Linked DNA regions of Homo sapiens. The protein of the gene in region 3 interacts with the protein of the main gene of each other region in a pairwise test. Each region holds a gene or a part of one and is shown on either strand. Other genes may lie near its edges.

Region 1 (5,042 bases), on a different chromosome or scaffold from region 3:
AGAATAGCGCCAATGTAGTAGGCCCTTTTTAACAACAACAAAAAAAAAAAAAAGAGAGAGAGAGAGAAATTAGAAATTTAGAAGTTCATTAATAACTGTTACTTATATTCAAGGAATTTATAGTGACAGCCTAGTGGTGACCAGCTCTAGGAAAAGACGCTGAAGAGGACGCTCCCAGCACCTGGGACAGAGGAGAGAACAGACACACCAGGGAAGCAGCCTTGGAAAGGGGATGCAGACATGAGGCTTTTCAGGGCTTCAGATCTACATGACTGCACCCAATGGACAGGCTCTGTACAATCACTGCCCACAAGCCCAACAGGTAGCCACTCGAGACACACACACTGAGGGGACTTCGGGGCTGGCTGACTTGCTCAGATGCATTTTAACAAAAACCCCCATCACCATCCTGCTCACATTCCTACCGTCACCTCAAACATCTCTGCTTTTAGCTCCAGATTCTTCTCAACATAACTGAGTAACTAACCACAATGGATATGAAATACTGTTGAGTAGGTTAAAGTCCTTAATAAGTCAAGCGTCTTAGCATATTTTTGAAGTCGTATCTATAATCAAAGCCTGGAGCACCTGTTTGTTCAACACAGTTATCTTTCATCCAGAATTACAAAATATAGAAGCTGTCATTCTTGAGTTTCCCCATGGGTCCCTGGTATTGCCCACGTGGGAACAACAGGAAGGGTGGAGGTGAGGGCACAGCACTGTACTACAGCTGCAGGGCTGATCAAGGGAATCTCATGAGGTGCTTTTTATCATTTAATGTGCCAACAACAGGAGGACAACCATGTGCTTCTAGAACAGGGTGAAGGCCCTCCTCACGGGAGTGATCCCTAATCTGGCCCCAGCACCGTGAAAGGTGAATAGCTGTCAATATCTACTTTCACCTAAACCTAAGCTTTTAAAATTCTGACCAAGTGGTGAAAGGTGCCATCTAAAGTGCTCTCTGTTGCTCGCTGAGGAGCTAAGAACTCCTGCGGCTCACTCAGGACACAGGTGTCAGGAAACTAAAGGAGCAGGGCTCCTTTGCAGCCCAGGCCCTGTGCCGCAGCTCTGCCCAGCTCAGCGGTGTAGCTCCCAGAGTCATGGACTGCTCGCATCTGTTCTGGCCGGCTGGTGCCCACACTGGAGAGACTGGCAAGTATCTTGAGTGTCATCCCCAATGGCCCCAGGAAGGAAAATGGACTCTGTTCTTCACTTTCATTACTGTTGAGCTGCTGAATTCTCTTGCAAAAACCATCAACAGGCATTTACTAAGCAAATGCCCACAGGGAACCCAGCCTGAAAAGGGCCCTTCCAATTTCATATTTGACAGGCATGTGCAGAGGTAATGAAATTATTCAGCAGAGCATCAGATTCACTCAGAGGCTACCAAGCCAAGAAACTGAAAGCAGAAACACTGGATTCTCCCTGTTTGTTGAACCTTTCCCTCTAAAACCAACTTATTCAGAAACACATCCTTTAAAAAAACAAAAGGAAAAACCAAAGCGGTGAAACAATATCACTTACTGGTTGGAAGACATCACTCTGACATAGTCATTAGTCTTGCAGAGACCTAACACCAGGCAGCTTCACAAACACACAGCAAGTCTGCAGAGTTATATTGATCAGTAAGAGTAAACCCAAACTGCACTAAATACTCTCATGGCCAAGAGGAAAGCAGATGCTGTTTTCAGGACAATGTGATAGTGACAGCCTATTTCCTCATGTGCAGCACAATTTGCTATGTTTAGTGGCACTTAAGTATTACACAGTAAATACTGAAAAGACCCAGAATTTTTGGATGTGCAGAAGCAATATCACATTGTTTATACAAAAGGTGCTATGCTACGGGATTAGAATACCACTATTTGGGTGTAGAGACCACTTAAAATCTTCAACACGCTCCCACACGCGGCCTCTCCGCCGGCCTTTGCTCAGTCGGACCAGTCGTTCTCGTCGAACTCTGAGTCGTCGTCAGAGTCGCTGTACTCCACGGCAATGCGCCGGGACAGGATCGTGGCCACGTCATTCCCCACTGGCTCCCGCTTGGCCTCCTGCTCCCGCTGCTCCTGCACCTTTTTCAGTTGAATTCCTGCAGACACAACACGTGGTTCAGAATCACATCCTTTTGCTGGCTCCAAATTAAAGATAAACGAACAAATATGTCTATTGGACTTTTTTTTCTACTGACACTAAGGACAGAAAGTTTTAGAAATTTGAGGGGAGAAAAGCTCAGGGAATATTAAAAGTTTCATGAGAAAAAACATGCATTCAAAGTGAGAAGTTTTTTTGTAACAAAGTAATGTGTTAAAATATTAAAAATTCCTAATTTCAGTGTACCTGAACACCATTAGAGAAAACTGTGGAGCTGCACCATCCCAGACAGCAGCCACTAGGCACATATAGCCTTAAAAGCATGAACTGACATGTGGCTAGTGGCTACTCTCTGGGACGCTGCAGGCTGGAGCATTTCTATCACCACAGGACATCTACTAGGCAGCAACAGCATCCAGAGCCTTGGAAACAGTGTTCTATGCTACTCACTCTCAGCTAACCCAAGAAGTAACTGAGAAACCTTTATTTCAACAATTACTGTGGAAACAAACATAAAATACAATCATCTACTTTCTAGCTTAGTAACAAAGTAAGATATTTGATGATTTAATGTTTATCCATTTTTTTTTTTTTTTTTGAGATTGGGTCTCACTCTGTGACCCAGGCTGGAGTGCAGTGTTACGATCATGGCTCACTGCAGCCTCGACCTCCTGGGCTCAAGCAATCCTCCCACCTCAGCCTCCTGAGTAGCTGGAACCACCGGCGCACGCCACCATGCACGGTTAAATTTTGTATTTTCTTTTTTGTAGAGATAGAGTCTTGCAATGTTGCCCAAGATGGTATCCATTCATTTTTTAACTGTTTTGAAATAATTTCAGATTTACAGAACAGCTATGAGACCAGCAGAAAAACATTCCCATATACTTGGATTCCCCAACTGCTAACATCTGACCACATTTATTTCCCAATCTTCCCCTATCATCTTTACACAGACAGACACAGACACTTTTCTCTGGACCATTTGAGAGTGAATGGCATATAATGTCCCTTTACCCCTAAAATAGTTCATGTGTTACCGCCCCCGCCTCGCCCACCCAAAATATCAAAATCACAAAATTAGTTTGGATACACTACTACTATCTATCCTACAAATATTATTCAAATTTTGCAAAAAGACCCAATCTAATTGCAAATGGAAAAGATTATCCCCTGGTTCAGAATCCAGTGGAAATTATCCGTGACATTGGTTGTCAATTTTGTTAATGTCCTTTAATCTGGATAGTTCTTCACAGTCTTTGTGTTTTACAACCTTCTCGTTTTTGAAGAATATAGGAAGCTATTTTGCAGAATGTCTGTCGATTTGGGTGTATCAGATGTTTCCTCGAGATTAGATACAGATTATGTATCTACTCTTGGTAGACAGGGCTTATAAGGTGTTAAAAAAAAAAAAGGCAAATCCAACACCGTCCTACAATGACCCCGAACTTGATATTCATGAGCTAATATACCTCTAGGACTTTTTTATCTTGACAAAATAAAAGTGTGTCAATGATGTCCAGGTACACAGAGGACCCTGGGGTCTTTAGAAGGGTGCGTGGGCCACACTGTGGGCCTGGTTCATGGGCACACAAGAAAAACGCAGAGGCAGCAGCATCACAGCTCCTCTGAAGGACATCCCTGATGCTGAGCTGGCGGGCTGCAGCCAGGCTCCTTGCTTGGTCACTTCCAGATGAGATGACTAAACTGTGACCAAGTCTGTGCAGCTCCCCACAGGCGAGAAGCTCTTGGATATTCCCATAACATGTCAGGGACCCTCGACCAACCTGGGTTGGGACCTGGTTAAGAATCCATGGTGTGGGCTGGAGGTTCCCAGGGGCTCTCTGGGCAGCCCAAGACAGGCGAGGGCAGACTCCCCACCCAATTCCACCTGAGATGCTCTGTTTCCATGTGTTTTGTGGTCAGGGGGTCAACGCGGGACTTTCATCTGACAAAAGGGTTATGCTGTTGAATATTATAGATTCTGAAAAACCACTGGCTTAGGACATCAAGCAAATATGACAAGTCCAGCACAAACTCTTTTTTTTTTTTAAAGAAATCATTAATATGAGCTCACTTTCTTTCATTTATACTTTTCCCCTTAGAGCAGAATGCAGAGAAGAGATCCAATTAATTAATCGATCACTTCAGTTATTGGGTTTCTGGTTTCAAGGTAAGTAAAAACTTCCTAATTTCAATTCTTTTTTTTTTTTTGAGACGGGTCTCGCTCTGTCGCCTAGGCTGGAGTGCAGGGGCGTGACCACGGCTCACTGCAGCCTTGACCTCCCACACTCAAGCAATCCTCCCACCTCAGCCTCCTGAGTAGCTGGGACTACAGGCTCAGGCCAACATGCTCAGCTAATTTTTTTTTGCATTTTTTGTAGGGATAGAGTTTTGCCATGTTGCCCAGGCTGCTCTCAAACTCCTGGGCTCAAGCAATCCAACTGCCTTGGCCTCCCAAAGTGCTGGGATTACAGGCATGAGCCCACCGCGCCCGGCTGTTTCCCAATCTTTATCACAATTTGATTACCTTACACTGGACAAAAACACAACTACTATTCAAAACAAAACAAAAAAATCAAGTAAGACCCCTTTAACTCTATTTTAAAAAACGTAGTGAGTAGTCATTTGAAGACAAGGAGGCTGTAGCTGGCTGGAGACATGAAGAAACCTCTTGCTGAAAGGCAGGCTGTGTGTCTGGGGGCTCCACTTACCCATTCGAATAGCAGCGAGGAGGTCGCTTCGAGCATCACTGATTGGTGGCTGTGCAGGCTCTTGCCGCTTCGCCTCAGCTACTGGGGGGCCATGCATTGGGGAGGACGAAAGAGAAGACCCGGGACCAGGAGGGCCTGGCGGGGGAGGTGGTGGGCCCGGGGGTGGCGGGGCTGTGACCAGGAGCCCGGTGGAGGGTGGGTGAGGAGGAGCTGCGTGCGTGGAGCTGGCTGATGCAGGGA
Region 2 (4,077 bases), on a different chromosome or scaffold from region 3:
ACACAACAAGAAAACAGGAGATTAAGAGGAATTAATCACTGCAGAATAATGTGATGTCCTGGAAATAGAGAATGTCTTTTCCTCTTTGTGGGTTCAGGCAGTCTCAATCCTGAAAATGGTTGTTTGTTCTGTGAAGAGTGTATGTGTGCACAGTTAGCTCACCATTTGGACAATCAACAGAAGAATCTGGCATGTGTGGTTCACCCTGTGGTGCTTCCTGAACTCTCTTTAAGCTCCTACAAAGTGTACTCCAGGTTGAATGACCCGGACTTGGAGAATTGTTCTTCTGGGAGGTGTGGCGGATCCCACTGTGAGAAAGAACCTGCAGGAAGGGGCCAAGGCTTCCTGAAAGGTACGTGAAAATTGTCTGTAATTAAGTGGTTGTTGGCCGGGCATGGTGGTTCATGCCTGTCATCCCAGCACTTTCAGAAGCTGAGGCGAGTGGATCACTTGAGCCCAGGAGTTTGAGACCAGCCTGGGCAACATGGCGAAAGCCCATCTCAAAAAAAAAAAAAAAAAAAAAATTAAAAAATAAAGTGGTGGTTAGGAGCACGTGGTTCCAGCGTCAGACTCCCTGACTTCCCACTTCTAAGAGCTATGATAACGAACATATTGTTTAGCTTCTATCTACCTTGGTTTCTTCATCTCTAAGATGAGTATCATGATAGTACCTATCTCACAGGGATTTGGTGAAGATTAAATTACTTAAGGTATGGAAAGCACCTAGAAGTACTTGGCACATAGAAAGCACTTAGTAAATAGCAGTTCTTAATATGAATTATCTATATGTTGGAGGTAAGGGTGACATGAAGGGAAGAAAATCAGGTTAGGACGACGGTGTGCAATGAAGGGAACCCCTGTAAACAGAATTCGTGGGTTATGAACAGCTCTAAATACACTGTTCTACACTAATTTTTCTGAATTATCTGTAACACTTCACTAAGCCTGAAATTACTACACAGTCTAGTATAAGGTAGGGGTGTTATGAAGAATAAAGGATGAAGACAGTAAAGGAAAGTGGGGCCTACCCTGCAGAAACTCTCCCCTTGCCCCAACAGTCTCCTTTCCATGGGGATGGCATCAGAGTTCCAGGAGAGAAGAGAGCAGGGCACATGTTGGGGCCAGGAGCATGCAGAGGCACCCATGAGAGGCACTCACGTACCTAGAAGAAGGCTGTCGTGGTCCCAGATTTGCTGGGGAGCACTGTTGGAAAAGGAAGGGATGGAGAGGGGAGCCCGGGTTACTTGGGAAACATTTTCTTCATACTTCTTCTCTATATCTACCTGCCTAGCCATGTGAGCTCACCAAGCACTTAAGAACAAACCCCAGTCCAGGATGAGTGTTCTGGTCTCCTCCTTCCAATAAAAAGTGATTATTGGCAGCTCTCACTTTAATGCCAGCTCACCAGGAAGTCAGCCCTAGTGAGGGCATGTGAGGACTATAGAAGGATTGGTGGTGTGGATTTCTTTTAAGATATTGCCCTTCACTCTCCTTCTCCACCATTCCCCCGATCCCCATTAGATAAGGGGTTTGTTAGTCAAACCATCAGGTAGAACATTTCAAAGGTCACAAGACAAAAGCAATTACCAGTACATTTTTGTTTCCAATTGCAGATTTATTTCCACACACACAAAAAAATCTATGTTGAAGTTACAGGATTGCCATGAATGCCACACACCTTTCAGACTAAGCAGAAAGCCCACAAGAAAAGCACAAAATGAATGCACTCAGCTGCCCCTGTCCCCCCCACCCTGGTGACTGGGGAAGGACAGGCAGAGCCATCTAACAGGGGAGCTGAGTCTTTGGGAGGATAGGAAAGCCCAGGGTCAAGGGAAAACAACACAGACACTACACAGGGGCTTTCAGTGAGACAGGGATAGATCACGCCGGTGGAAGGAAGGCCCTAGCGTCCCTGTTCTTGCCCAAGAATAGCACACCATTTGTGAGTTTGCCCACTGTGTTCCCAACATCAATGCACAGATACAATTCTACCAGCAAGATCACAGAAACATAGTAAGAGCAAAAGGCAAAGCAGTCTGGGATTATGGGTTGATTTTCAGCCCAAGACACAAAGCCAGCTCAGACTTCTGAATTTTTCCATCCTTGTTCACGTCGCAGTGACGCAGGAGAATCTCGCGGAACTTATCAAGGTCCACCCCGCTGATGCTGGGCTGAGGGCGACAAAAGTAACATGTTAACAGGCAAGCCAATGGTGTTCTCACCCTTTAACACCCTCTCTGATGCTCCCTAAGCTTAGGGTGTCCTGCCTTGAAGGAGACAGGCCACAGGGAGTGAGGGAATGAGTCTATCGCCTCATCCCACCAAATGCTGCCAAGGATAAGTTTTCTGCCAACAGCTTCATTTCTCAGCATGTCCCTTCAGGCCAAAAAACCTTTACTTCCACATCACTTCCCTGCAGTTCTTAGAAAAAGACTGCCTTATTAGCAACCATAGTAAAGATACTTTGCCGCAAAGTAGGCAATTATGATCATAAATTTCTGCCTTGCTGCACTGATGAGAGAAGACACATTTCATTATCTCCTTGTAGGAGATTTTTGTGCCTCTGGTTTAAAAAAAAATGGTTATACTGAATGTAAATTTAAAACATGTGGTTGAGCTAGGGATGTAATATTTACTCCAAGGGATATGTTAGGGGGCAAGAAAGAATGTTAGCTAGAAACGTGACACATGTTAGCTAGGAAAAGTTTTTTACTTCAAGCTCAAAGGCCTGCAAAAGTGAGGAATGCTTTAACAAATTGATTCTCCATAGGTTATTTCATGTAAGCTTCACAATAATGCTGGGAAGTAAATAATTCCACCTCTTTTACAAATTAGGAAACAGAGGTGCAGAGAAAGCTTAAGCTTCCTGCCAAGCTGGAAAGTTGTGGCAGCATTTTTGAGCCCAAGAATAGTCCAACAGTCCTCTGACAATTGGAGACAGTCCTCAATAGTCCTCTGATTCCAATTGAGTGCTCATTGCAAAATTTCATACCATTCTCATGGAGAAAAGGCTGGTCTAATGAAACTACATGTGTGCTGATGCATCTGTGAATAAACGTCAAAATCAAAGAGCCCATCCTTCAAAATGGATCTCACGTGGTTTACTGGCCCAAAATTTTTTTTTTTTTTTTTTTTTGAGACGAAGTCGCAGCCGTCCCTGCTGGAGTGCAGTGGCAGTGATCTCGGCTCACTGCAACTACCGTCTCCCGGGTTCAAGCGATTCTCCCATCTCAGCTTCCCGAGTGGCTGGGCTTACAGTCACCCGCCATCATGCCCGGCTAATTTTTGTATTTTAGTAGAGATAGGGTTTCATCCTGTTGGCCAGGCTGGTCTTAAACTCCTGACCCCTGGTGATCCGCCCACCTTGGCCTCCCAAAGTGCTAGGATTACAGGAGTGAGCCACCGTGCCCGGCCACTGGCCCTAAATTTAAAATAGATCCAAGTGGCCCTTTTTTGACTAGAGATGACAGCTTACTCAAGTACCCTGAAAACCAGCACCTTTTTCTTTTTAGGGCTTTCAGAGCTCACCCGAACCAACCAATCAGAACTCAGTTAAATTAACCAATCAGGACTCAGCTCTATTGACCAATCAGAACTTGGCTCCAATAACCAATCAGAACTAAGCAAGTTTGAATCCTTTATTTGCACAAACAGAACTAACTGGCAACATGGGTGGGCACTGACTTTGTAAAATCCAAACCCCCTTTTGTTCTCTGCACCCTGGTTTACACTGAAAAGTGTGTCCTCCATTTTCCCATTTTCTTTTCTTTTTTTTTTTTTTTTTTTTTGAGACAGAGTTTCAGTCTTGTCACCAAGCTGGAGTGCAGTGGTGCCATCTCAGCTCATTGCAACCTCCGCCTCCCAGGTTCAAGCAACTCTCCAGCCTCACCCTCCCAAGTAGCTGGGATTACAGGTGCCCACCACCACACCCGGCTAATTTTGTATTTTTTCAGTAGAGACAGGGTTTCACCATGTTGGCCAGGCTGATCTCAAACTCCTGACCTGAGATGACACACCTGCCTCGGCCTCCCAAAGTGCTGGGATTAGAGTCCTGAGCCATTGTGCCCAGTCCCGTTT
Region 3 (5,792 bases):
TCTGAGAAAGGGATAAACAAATTGTGGTACATCCCCATACAATACAACACTACTAAGCAATAAAATGTAATGAAATACTTAAACATGCAACAACATGGGTAATTCTCAAATGCATCTGGCCAAAAAAAACAGATCAAAAAAGCTACATACTATATGCTTTCATTTATGTTATACTTAAAAAGGCACAACTTTAGAGAAAAAAAACACATCAAGGGCTTACCAGGAGCTGGGAGTGGAAGGGAAGGACTGACTATAAAGGGGGCATGGAGGAAATTTTTGCGATGATAGGACTGTTCTGTAACTTGATTGTGGTGGCAATTACATGTCAGTACACCTTTGCCAAAACTCACAAACATATATGGTATAAAGGGTGAATTTTACTGTACATAAGTTATACCTTGGTAAAAAGAAAAACAATTGCTTGGTAACTCAGGTACTGTATAAAACAGACTATCCTGATATAAATTATTAATAAGACATTTACCTTGCTTTTTGTTTTAAAAACCACAGTTAATTATCCCCTCACATAACAAATGTTTATTTAGTGAACACTGAGCCAGGCACCTGTTATTCAATTAATATTTAATTACTAAAACATAGACTCTCAGTTGGGGGTGATTTGTCCTTTCTGATGCATTCTTTATCAAAGCAGGAGCATAACGAGATTCCTATATTTAACTAGTTAGTTTGGCCTAACAGTTGTATCTGGATCAAAAAACACCCCATGTTTACATTTATCTACTGCAGAAAGCTTTTCTTTAAAAGTCATATAGAAGGAATCCCACAAGACATCACCCAAAATCCATTTTGGCTAAAAGTGTCTTTTAAAACATGTAAAGATCTTATATATGTTTAACATGTATAACAGCAAAGCTGAATATAAATGCCATGAAGTTCTTCACTGGCAAGTGGAACACTACGGTGATTGATATGCTTTGAATCTGTGTCCCTGCCCAAATCTCATGTTGAATTGTAATCCCCAATGTTGGAGGTGGGGCCTAGGGGGAGGTGACTGGATCACAAGGGCGGTTTCTCATGGTTTAACACCATCCCCCTTGGAGCTGTTCTTGCAATAATGAGATCTGGTTGTTTAAAAGTGTGTAGCACCTCCCGCCTTGTCCTCTTGCTCCTACTCTGGCCACGTGACCAGTGTGCTTCCCCTCTGCCTTAGGCCATGAGTGTAAGTTTCCTGAGGCCTCCCCAGAAGCCAAGCAGATGCCACTATCATGCTTCCTGTACAGCCTGAAGAACCGTTAGCCAATTAAACCTCTTTTCTGCATAAATTACCCAGTCTCAGGTATTTATAGCAATGTGAGAACAGACTAATACAGTGATATATGTCCAAACACATACATTTTATAGCAGACAAGAACCTGTTACTAGCCAGCATCATTAACTCTACAAATATATTTCGTAGCAATTGAGTCTATCTCCTCCCCAATCAAAACAGATTTTAGATTGCAATTTTAAAACACCAGCCAACTTAAATAAACCTGAAATTCTTTAAAAGTCCATTGTCTATGAGTTTCCAATGCTGCTATAATAAGCAACAGATTCTGTTAAAAATAGACTTACAGAGGCTTTCCATTTGTTGTATCAAATATTTCCTATAAAATATACCTTAGAATTATTGTAATAGACTTTTGTTAATCACTTAACCTATAATGAAAATATTTCTAATGATAATTTCCAAAAACTGTATAGAAGGTAGCTCCATATTAAACTTAAAAATCTCTAATAAATGAAATTCAAGCAATAAAAAAACACAAATTTATGCTACCCTATTGGAAAAATGTATGAGAAACTTTACCTCAATTTTCTCAGGAAATGCTAATCTTTGGTCACATACTTTCTGGTTAGTACATTATTCTTATTTTTTTTTAATACGAAGTACAACAAAACCAAAAACAAACAAAAATCAGAGGTGCAAGTAAGAGAATAGCCAGATGACTGCATCTGCCTGCCAATGAATAAGCAAATACTTACCTGTAGGGGGAGTGGAAGAAACAACAGGGGGAGTTGGAGAAGTGAAGCCATCAGCAAGGGTCTGGGCACCCCCAGCAGCAGCGTCTGGGGCAGTGGAGGAAGGGACAGTAGCAGGAACAAGAGGAGCAGGGGCAGATGCAGAAGTAGCAGGAAGGGGAGGAGTGCCAGCAGAGCCAGCAGGGGCTGAGGGGAAAGAGGAGTAAGAGGCAGCATTAATGAGGCAATCACATGAGGCAGGATTAGAAAAGGTATTAGAGTATTTAATGTTAGATATTCAGTGCTTAACACTAACCAAAAGAACAGAGTTGAAAAAAAGAATAAAACTTATGCTAAAGGATTACTATATAAGCAGCAAATAATTCAAGATGCTCAGGGTAATGTGCAGATTTTTTCAATTCATTAAAAACAAACATTCCTTTTCAATTGAAAGCACTACTCCAGAAGAAAAGTGTTCCCTTCGTATTGTTATTTTTAGCATAACATTCTGTATATAGTATACAAAACTAACATAATACACTAAAAAACAACAGTTTTCCATTTTGAATTACACAAATCAGAAAATAGACATATTCCATATTATCAGATTAAAAATTTTTTTTAAAACACAAATCTTTATGATTTTTAAAAGGCATTATCTACTTGTTACTATAAGTAAATTAAGTATGTAACATTCTATTAATGTATTTTGTGTCACGTTTTCAAAACTAAGTTTTAAGTGTGTATCTCCTCGAATCAAATAAGCAGATTTTTCTGTTTCAGAGAAAAGAGGGTAGTATTTTCAGAGACTACTAAATTCCAATACAGCCACTAAATTTAACTGTCAAAACTACTTTTTATATCTGCCCAATCCTTTGTTACTAATATGGTTCTCACACTGAGTTCCCACTGTGTCCAAAGACTGCACTGTCATAACACTAGCTGGAATTAAACTTGTACTCATAACAAAGTGTGATCTGAAACCTCAAAGCAGCAACTGAGCCACATCACCAAAGGCATAAAGAGAAGTGCAAAGTGAGCAAACACTTACAAATCACTTGCTTACAAATAACAAATATATAGACTTCCCAATATTTATGATTCCTAAAGAAAAAAAATCCTGATTACGAAGAAAGCCCACCATAATTAAATCACAAATTGAATCAAATTCAGAAAGGAAAAGTGAAGACGAGGCACCATGAATGTTTTACCTGGAAAGACACTGGGAGGAGATGGAGTAGGAACAGCAATAGGAACCCCCACACTACCACTTCCACTGTTCTCTCGACTGCTGCTCCGACTACTTGGGTGGCTCCCTCCACTACTCCCACTGCTGCTAAAGAAATAAGAGCCACCAAAACATGAGTATTTATAAACAGTAAGAGATCATCAGCACTTCCCGACATTTTCTGAGATGAATGTAGCTACAATAAAGGTAATTCAAAAGCGTACCACTTCAAAATAAAATTTCCTTGAGCTCCAAGTCAGTGACAGGTTAAAAAAAAATGTGTGTGTGTGTGTGTGTGTGTGTGTGTGTGTGTGTATATATATATATATATTTACTTATTAATAAAGTTGAGGGGAAAACTGAGTTCAATAAGCTTGTTTTGACCACATTTTGAAAAAATTATCCATAAATACAAGTGATAAATGTTGAGGTTTAACACATTAAAACAATAAATATTGCCTTTTTATATTCCAGTTTAATGCCTATCTGAAGAAACTTCTTTTATAATAAAACAAAAACATTTTCCTAAACAGATTTGAGTAATTTTAATTAATAATCATACTCTGATGTACTATCCCATATTAATGTTTTATTATGTATAGTTTTTCATCTGTAAAGTTCCACCAAAAAACAACCTGACATTTCCCACATTTGGTCCATAATTTTTTTTCCAGATCAACTGAACTCTTAAAACTTGGAGAGAAGTCTGCACTTTGAGATGTCTGTTCTTTATCAACTTCCTGACTGCTCAAAGTTGAATCAGAACATGAGGAGAGAGAGGTGAAATCAGATGAGGTTTGGGAGAATAGAGTGAGGAAAAGAACTTAGTGCTTGGAAAATGAGAGATTTACCTGAAGTAATCTGAACAGATTATGGTACTATGACCATCACATTTTGCACTGAGGTAGAGAAAATACCTGTAAGTTCGATTTCTTTGATTCACAGAAGCTGTCCTCACAGGGCTCTGCTGCGAGGGAGCCATATTACGGGTTGGGCTAGGTACGTAATCATTTGGTACCACTGGAGGACGCACTGGCTCCAGTGTGCGATAGGGGGAGTGCCGCCTACAAAAAGAAGAGCGTATGTATTGTATGATTAAGCAAGTTTCGGCACAATAAATTCAAAGAGTTGCCAGCAGTTGAGATACAATTTGTAATCAGAGATAGGAAATGTGTTTTAACATAACCCAGCTACCAATTTCAGTCTTTACTAATGTATCACTTCTCCACCATTAGGGTTTTGGTGAATATTGTTATTTTTCAGTCTCCAACCTCATTTCCCTGTGCTAATGCAATTTTGTTCATTTATTCTCAAAGAGCACAAAGGTTCTCTACCATTTAAGCCAATGTTTCCCAGACCCTACCTCTTCTTAGAAGAGTTGGAATTCTTTTAGTATCATATTAAAGTCTCCCAACTGTACTTCATGAATGCACTAATTATTCTCCTCTCCCTTCTCTCCCTAACCAAAGATATTCAAAGACAGGAACTACAAATCTAGATTTAGGATCTATAACCCCCACACTGATGATCAATACTAGCCATAACAACTCATTTCCCTTTCTATATACCAAATATACAGAAATTAAAGTATATCTATATACAAAAATACACACTTTAATCTCATCTTCCGTTCTCACTTTCTCCCTCAACTTTCACCTTGATCTCTTTTCTCTTTCCTTCCTCAGAGTTCAACATTTACAAAGGTGGGGGGAAGGGAATGACCACCACAACAGCCTTTCTATATTATTTACTTTGAACTGTAAAATACAAACCAGACTGGATTTTATTAACACATATTTCCCGCCTTTTCCCAAAATTTCCTCGTAAAGAGGATGAAAAGAGGAAGAAAGGAAATATGACAGGGAACAGGATGCACATGGGGAAATTAGTGTTTATTAAATTAGTTCTCATTTCTACTTAGGTTTCCAAATTCTTTATGACAATGATAAACAGTCAATTGACATATTGTAGATGAGATCTTGGTCACTAAAAGAATAAGAACTGATCAAGATGTGAAAATTAAAAACCTTTCTTTTCCTGAAATGATGTTGCTCTACTGACTTATGTATGGATCCCAGAGTTCCTTTAACTATTGCTTTCCTGGGGCACTCAAGTTATGGATCACTGATTTTGCATGAGATCACTTTGCAATTTACTCTACTACCCTTCAAAGTCTCCTTACATAAATACATACATTGGTAATTAAAAATAAAATAAGGGACACTGGATGAAATCTTGGGTCAAAAGAGGAAAAAGTAATGTCAGGACTTTGGATTTAAAATACTAAAAGGAAGTTCCAGCATCTCTTAAATTATAATGCAAATATTAAACAATAAAATGGGAAACATTAATTTCTCCAACATCTAATTTTCAGACAATTTTTCCCAGGCAATAAAAATGTTTTGTTGCAGCCGGGTGCAGTGGCTCATGCCTGTAATCCCAGCACTTCGGGAGGCCGGGGCAGGCAGAGCACTTGAGCTCAGGAGTTTGAGACCAGCCTGGCCAACATGGCAAAACCCCATCTCTACTAAAAATACAAAAATTAGCTGGGAATGGTGGCGCACACCTGTAATCCCAGCTACTCAGGAGGCTGAAGCAGGAG
Region 4 (5,042 bases), on a different chromosome or scaffold from region 3:
CTGTGAGGCTCAGGAGGGCTGACCAACCTGAAGGTTGGGAAAACTTGCTTAAATGAGGAATTGCCATTTCAGCATAAACTGTCCTTAAGTCTACTGTAGAAATTGTTTTCATTCTGGAGATGGTGAGTCCCAGAAGATCATGGCCAAGATGATGTCCTAAGTAGCTTCCTCTGAGATTTTATGCCCAAGAGGGAGCCATCTGGCCACTTGCTTCTTCTTACATTTCTAATAGCTGCTCCATTTCCTTAAGGGCTGTTGTTAAATCATTTACTTGATTGTTACATAAGGTTTGCTGTTCTAGGAATCGGACTCTTTCCTCTTTCATCTCCAGCTTTACCTTTAAGGCCTGCATGGAAAGACATTCCAAAAGAAAACAACACATACACAAAACTCTTGACTAACAGGAAACACAATTCCCACATCAGAACATTATGCTCCTATTCCACTAAGGAAGACCACTGGAGTATCAACAGACTGTATCTTCTATTTTAGATTTTATTTCTATGCACTGGTTTTAGGAATTGTCCCTCTAGTAGTAGAGAGGGACTAGACTCCTGTATCTAAACTGGAACGATGAAATCCTCTACATTTGGTGCAATATCCCATGATTCATCCAAGCAATCTGAAACAGTCCAGACCAAAGAATCTGTGCTTACTACAGGTCTTCTCCTTGAGTTATCAAGTTTCCATAGAATGGATTACATATAGTTCTCAATTCCCAACTCTGAGCAACCTACTGTGTTACACATTGCCTCATGCCTTGGTGATGTGAACATTTGCAAGAAGCCTCGGTAACAGAAAAAAAAAAATTAGTGGAAAAAACTGCTAAAATCCAAATGAAGACTTGGAATATAGTTAATAGTAATGTACTGATGTTGGTCTGTTTTTTAAAAAATTTTTTTCCTGCCGGGTGCAGTGGCTCACACCTGCAATCTCAGCACTTTGGGAAGCCTAGGCGGGCAGATCACCTGAGGTCAGGAGTTCGAAACCAGCCTGGCCAACACAGTGAAACCCTGTCTCTACTAAAAATATAAAAATTAGCCGGTCATGGTCGCAAATGCCTGTAATCCCAGCTACTTGGGAGACTGAGGCAAGAAAATCGCTTGAACCCGGGAGGCGGAGGTTGCAGTGAGCCGAGATCACGCCATTGCACTCCAGCCTGGGGGACAACAGTGAGACTTTATCTCCTTGCCCTCCTGGGCCCAAGTGGTCTTCTTGCCTCAGCCTCCTGAGCAGCTGGGACTACAGGTATGTACCACCACGCCTGGCTATTTTCTAAATTTTATTTTGTAGAGATGGGGTCTTGTTATGTTTCCCAGGCTGGTCTCAAACTCCTGGCTTCAAGTAATCCTTCCACCTCAGCCTCCCAAAGTGCTGGGATTATAGGCGTGAGCCACCATGCCTGGCTGATTTCTTAGTTTTGACAAATGTACCAGGATAATGTAAGATGTTACTATTGGGGGTGGAGGAGGAAGTGCATCAAGAAGAATAGCTAATGGATGCTGGGCTCAATACCTAGGTGATGGGATGATCTGTGCAGCTAACCACCATGGCACACGTTTACCTGTGTAACAAGCCTACACACCCTGTACGTGTACCCCTGAACTTAAAAGTTGGAAAAAAAAAAACACGTTACTATCAGGGTAAATTTTCTGTATTATCTTTGTAACTTTCCTATAAATCTAAAATTATTTAGAAAGTTTATTAAAAATAAATAGAAAAACAGAAAAGACCCCACTATAAATCTACCTATCATGGTAGGAAATGGTCAGGGTGATGTCTGCCTCTCACCTGTAACTCCTCCATCTGCTTTTTGGCTGTTTCGTTAAAAAGCTTCAGCTCCTCTTGCAAAGTTTCTAACAGCAACTAAGAGGAAAGCACAATGTAGTAAACAAATCTTCATATAAAACCAGACTTGCATTAGATGATGGCTAACATCCTTTCCACACAGTTCTCAACAAAGGAGTCAGGAGAGAAATTTGATAAAGTATAGAACAGAAGAACGAGAAAGCTCTCTCTACAGGTTTACCTATTATGTGTTTTAAATTTTCAATTCAGACTCACTTATATTTGTAAGCACAAAGCTACCTTTCAAGTAAAATATGCTATTTTGAGTACACATCCCATTTCTCTTTTCTAGCATCACAGATAATCAAAGGCTGTTTCTTGGAGTTTATGGAATATATAGCAGAGACCTTCTTAGATTTACAGAGCCCCACAGTCACTCAGCCCTTGCGCCCTTTCACACCCATGCCCTCACCATAGAGTCCATGTGATCAGTAGTGGATTCTTGTCGTGATGCCAGGGTCTCACTGCCTAAAGCTGATGGATACAACAAAGTCAATCTCACTTAGGGAACTACACACCCTAAACAAAAGAAAATAAAAACCCTCCGTGGACAAGTACAGAAATATTCATGAGGGGAATTTCTCTTAAGTGTCTCATCCTGGACTTTCTCCTAAGTTTTCACCTTGGCAGGGTCACCCATATCTGCCCTGCAAAACTGTATTTTATCTCCTTTCAATCTAGGTTTTGATATGGCCAAAAATTCGGTATACTTTCTCCTTAGGTCAGTGGACAATTTGTCCAAAGGAAATGTATAGGTTGGATTTTTTTTGGTTTTGTTCACAATTCACAAAGCTATTTTTAAGAGCCTTTCAGGCCTTAAAAAATTATTACTTTCGGTAATATCACATGCATGTAATAAACTAAAATCATACAAAATATTTATGGTGTCGGATGTGGTGGTGCACACCTGTAGTCCCAGCTATTTGGGAGGATTGCTTGAGCCCAGGAGTTGGAGGCCAGCCTGGGCAACATAGCGAGATCCCATCTCAAAAAAATAAACAATTTTAAATTTAAAAACATATATATTTATGGTGACTATAAAGAATATCCTAGGCTGGGCATGGTAACTCATGTCTGTAAACCCAGCACTCTGGGAGGCCGAGACAGGCAGATCACTTGAGGTCAGGAGTTTGAGACCAGCCTGACCAACATGGCAAAACCCCATCTCTACTAAAAATACAAAAATTAGCTGGGTGTGGTGGTACACGCCTGTAATCCCAGCTACTCAGGAGGCTGAGGCAGGAGAATCACTTGAACCCAGGAGGAGGAGGTTTCAGTGAGCCGAAATCACACCTCTGCACTTCAGCTTGGGCAATGGAATGAGACTTCATCTCAAAAAAAAAAAAAGAATATCCTCAACTGTAACCTAAAGATTAACCAGTAACATTCAAAGTCAGTATTCCTTAATACAAAAAGGCCTGGGCCCCTTTCCTGGGCATTCTCTGGCTCTTTGACTCAGTCTGAGGCCCTCTTACAGTCTTTGGGCAATTCCTTCTTCTGCTCTCTTTGCTACAGATACTGCTTTCTGGGGGACAGGGTCAGAATAGTAGTCATATTTTAGTCACTGTAATTCTGATGATTAACCAGGTTTAAGAATGCTTGAAATAGTATTTTCTTTCTCTTCCCATTTGGGATTACTAGTATGCTTGAAAGGAAGAGCATGTTCAAACAAAATGTTCCTTTCAAGCACACTAGTAACTTTCCCAAATAGGAAGAGACAGAAAATGTTCTCCCTTGAAAGGAACAAAGTGTTTCTCATCTATTTGCAAGGTCATACCTGTTGGCACTAAATGAATGGCATAAAGTGTTCAGGTAAGAAAGAGATAACCCTCTCTCTATAATCATCTGAAATCCTATTGGCCAGGCAAAAATCAACATCACATGAAAACAAACAGAAGCTTTCCAAAATCTTTAGGGCTTTATGAAAGTAACCCCTGCACATACTGGGCCAGCTGATGCCATGCTGCCAAGATCAACCCCGGAAGGGGCACATGCACCAATTCCTTCAAAGGAGGCTAGCTGTGTGCTGTCTCTTACCTGGATCAAGGCCCTTGCTCTCCAAAATTGCCAAACAGTTGTCCCGAAACTTCTCCAGCAGCTCTACCTTCTGGGTCAGGTCCTTCAGCTCTCCCTATTGGAGCACAGCACAGACAGATCAGGAATTGTCCAACTCCCTAGGGGTGGTTGCCCTTTCTTGCCCTTGCTCTTGGACAGCCATAGCAAAAGCCTGGCTTTTTTTTTCTGCCCTTGGGCATCTGTGCATTAACAAGCTTGCTCATCCAAGGGGCCACCCATCAGGATTCCATGTGGATCGCCCAGTGGCAGCTGGTAACAGAGCTCTGGTGGGTCTCTTACCTGAGTTTCAGTCAACTTCTGGTGCAACTGCTTGTTGACGGCTTCTAACAGCTGGTTCTTGTCCTTGAGCTCTTCCTCTGATTTTTGCTTACTCAGTGGTTTGTAGCTGTAATAATAGTTGTACTTACATGAAAAGATAAAAGGGTTAACAGTATGGCCCACACCAGGTGCGGTAGCTCATGCCTGTAATCCCAGCACTTTGGGAGGCTGAGGCAGGCAGATCACCTGAGGTCGGGAAATCAAGACCAGCCTGACCAAGATAAGAGAAACCCTGTCTCTACTAAAATTACAAAAGATTAGTCAGGCGTGGTGGCGCATGCCTGTAATCCCAGGTATTTGGGAGGCTGAGGCAGGATAATCGCTTGAACCCAGGAGGCGGAGGTTGTGGTGAGCTGAGATTGCGCCATTGCACTCCAGCCTGGGTGGCAACAAGAGCAAAACTCCGTCTAAAAAAAAAAGAAAGAAAAATACGGCCTACAGAGTTACACAAACACGTCCCATTCTATCCTGGCTATTACACAGTGGTATATGACCTTCAGTGAGTTGCATAACCTCCCTGAGGCCTTGTTTCCTCATTTTTGAAATCAGGACAATACCCACATCTCATAGTATTATTATTATGAGTAATAAGAGAGAAAACACGTGTGCATTTCTTAGCCCAGTAGCTGGGCTATTATCTAATGTTAGTTTATCATCTAATAAACTCTAATATCACCAATTGTTGGGAGCAGGCCCCCCAAATCTGGCCATAAACTGGCCCCAAAACTGGCCATAAACAAAATCTCTGCAGCACTGTAACATGTTCATAAAGGCCCTAATGCCCATGCTGGAAGGTTGTG

Evidence for each region. Proteins that work in one complex are often made in the same cells at the same time.
Region 1: the proteins of ABI2 (region 3) and WASF3 interact in binary tests that used the Homo sapiens proteins (3 or more experiments, as listed by UniProt).
Region 2: the proteins of ABI2 (region 3) and SCGN interact in binary tests that used the Homo sapiens proteins (3 or more experiments, as listed by UniProt).
Region 4: the proteins of ABI2 (region 3) and KNSTRN interact in binary tests that used the Homo sapiens proteins (3 or more experiments, as listed by UniProt).

The regions. Positions count from the first base shown.
Region 1 is NC_000013.11:26,682,735-26,687,776, reverse strand, and holds part of WASF3 (actin-binding protein WASF3), read right to left. Parts: coding exon 4,803-5,042; intron 4,262-4,802; exon of another isoform or gene 4,194-4,261; intron 2,090-4,193; coding exon 1,932-2,089; 3' UTR 1-1,931. UniProt on the Homo sapiens protein: Downstream effector molecules involved in the transmission of signals from tyrosine kinase receptors and small GTPases to the actin cytoskeleton. Plays a role in the regulation of cell morphology and cytoskeletal organization.
Region 2 is NC_000006.12:25,699,301-25,703,377, reverse strand, and holds the end of SCGN (secretagogin), read right to left. Parts: intron 2,172-4,077; coding exon 2,043-2,171; 3' UTR 1,595-2,042; downstream 1-1,594.
Region 3 is NC_000002.12:203,393,162-203,398,953, reverse strand, and holds part of ABI2 (abl interactor 2), read right to left. Parts: intron 4,255-5,792; coding exon 4,108-4,254; intron 3,299-4,107; coding exon 3,174-3,298; intron 2,170-3,173; coding exon 1,987-2,169; intron 1-1,986. UniProt on the Homo sapiens protein: Regulator of actin cytoskeleton dynamics underlying cell motility and adhesion. Functions as a component of the WAVE complex, which activates actin nucleating machinery Arp2/3 to drive lamellipodia formation.
Region 4 is NC_000015.10:40,388,773-40,393,814, reverse strand, and holds part of KNSTRN (small kinetochore-associated protein), read right to left. Parts: intron 4,310-5,042; coding exon 4,204-4,309; intron 3,980-4,203; coding exon 3,886-3,979; intron 2,323-3,885; coding exon 2,261-2,322; intron 1,867-2,260; coding exon 1,792-1,866; intron 623-1,791; coding exon of another isoform or gene 584-622; exon of another isoform or gene 347-583; coding exon 218-346; 3' UTR 1-217. UniProt on the Homo sapiens protein: Essential component of the mitotic spindle required for faithful chromosome segregation and progression into anaphase.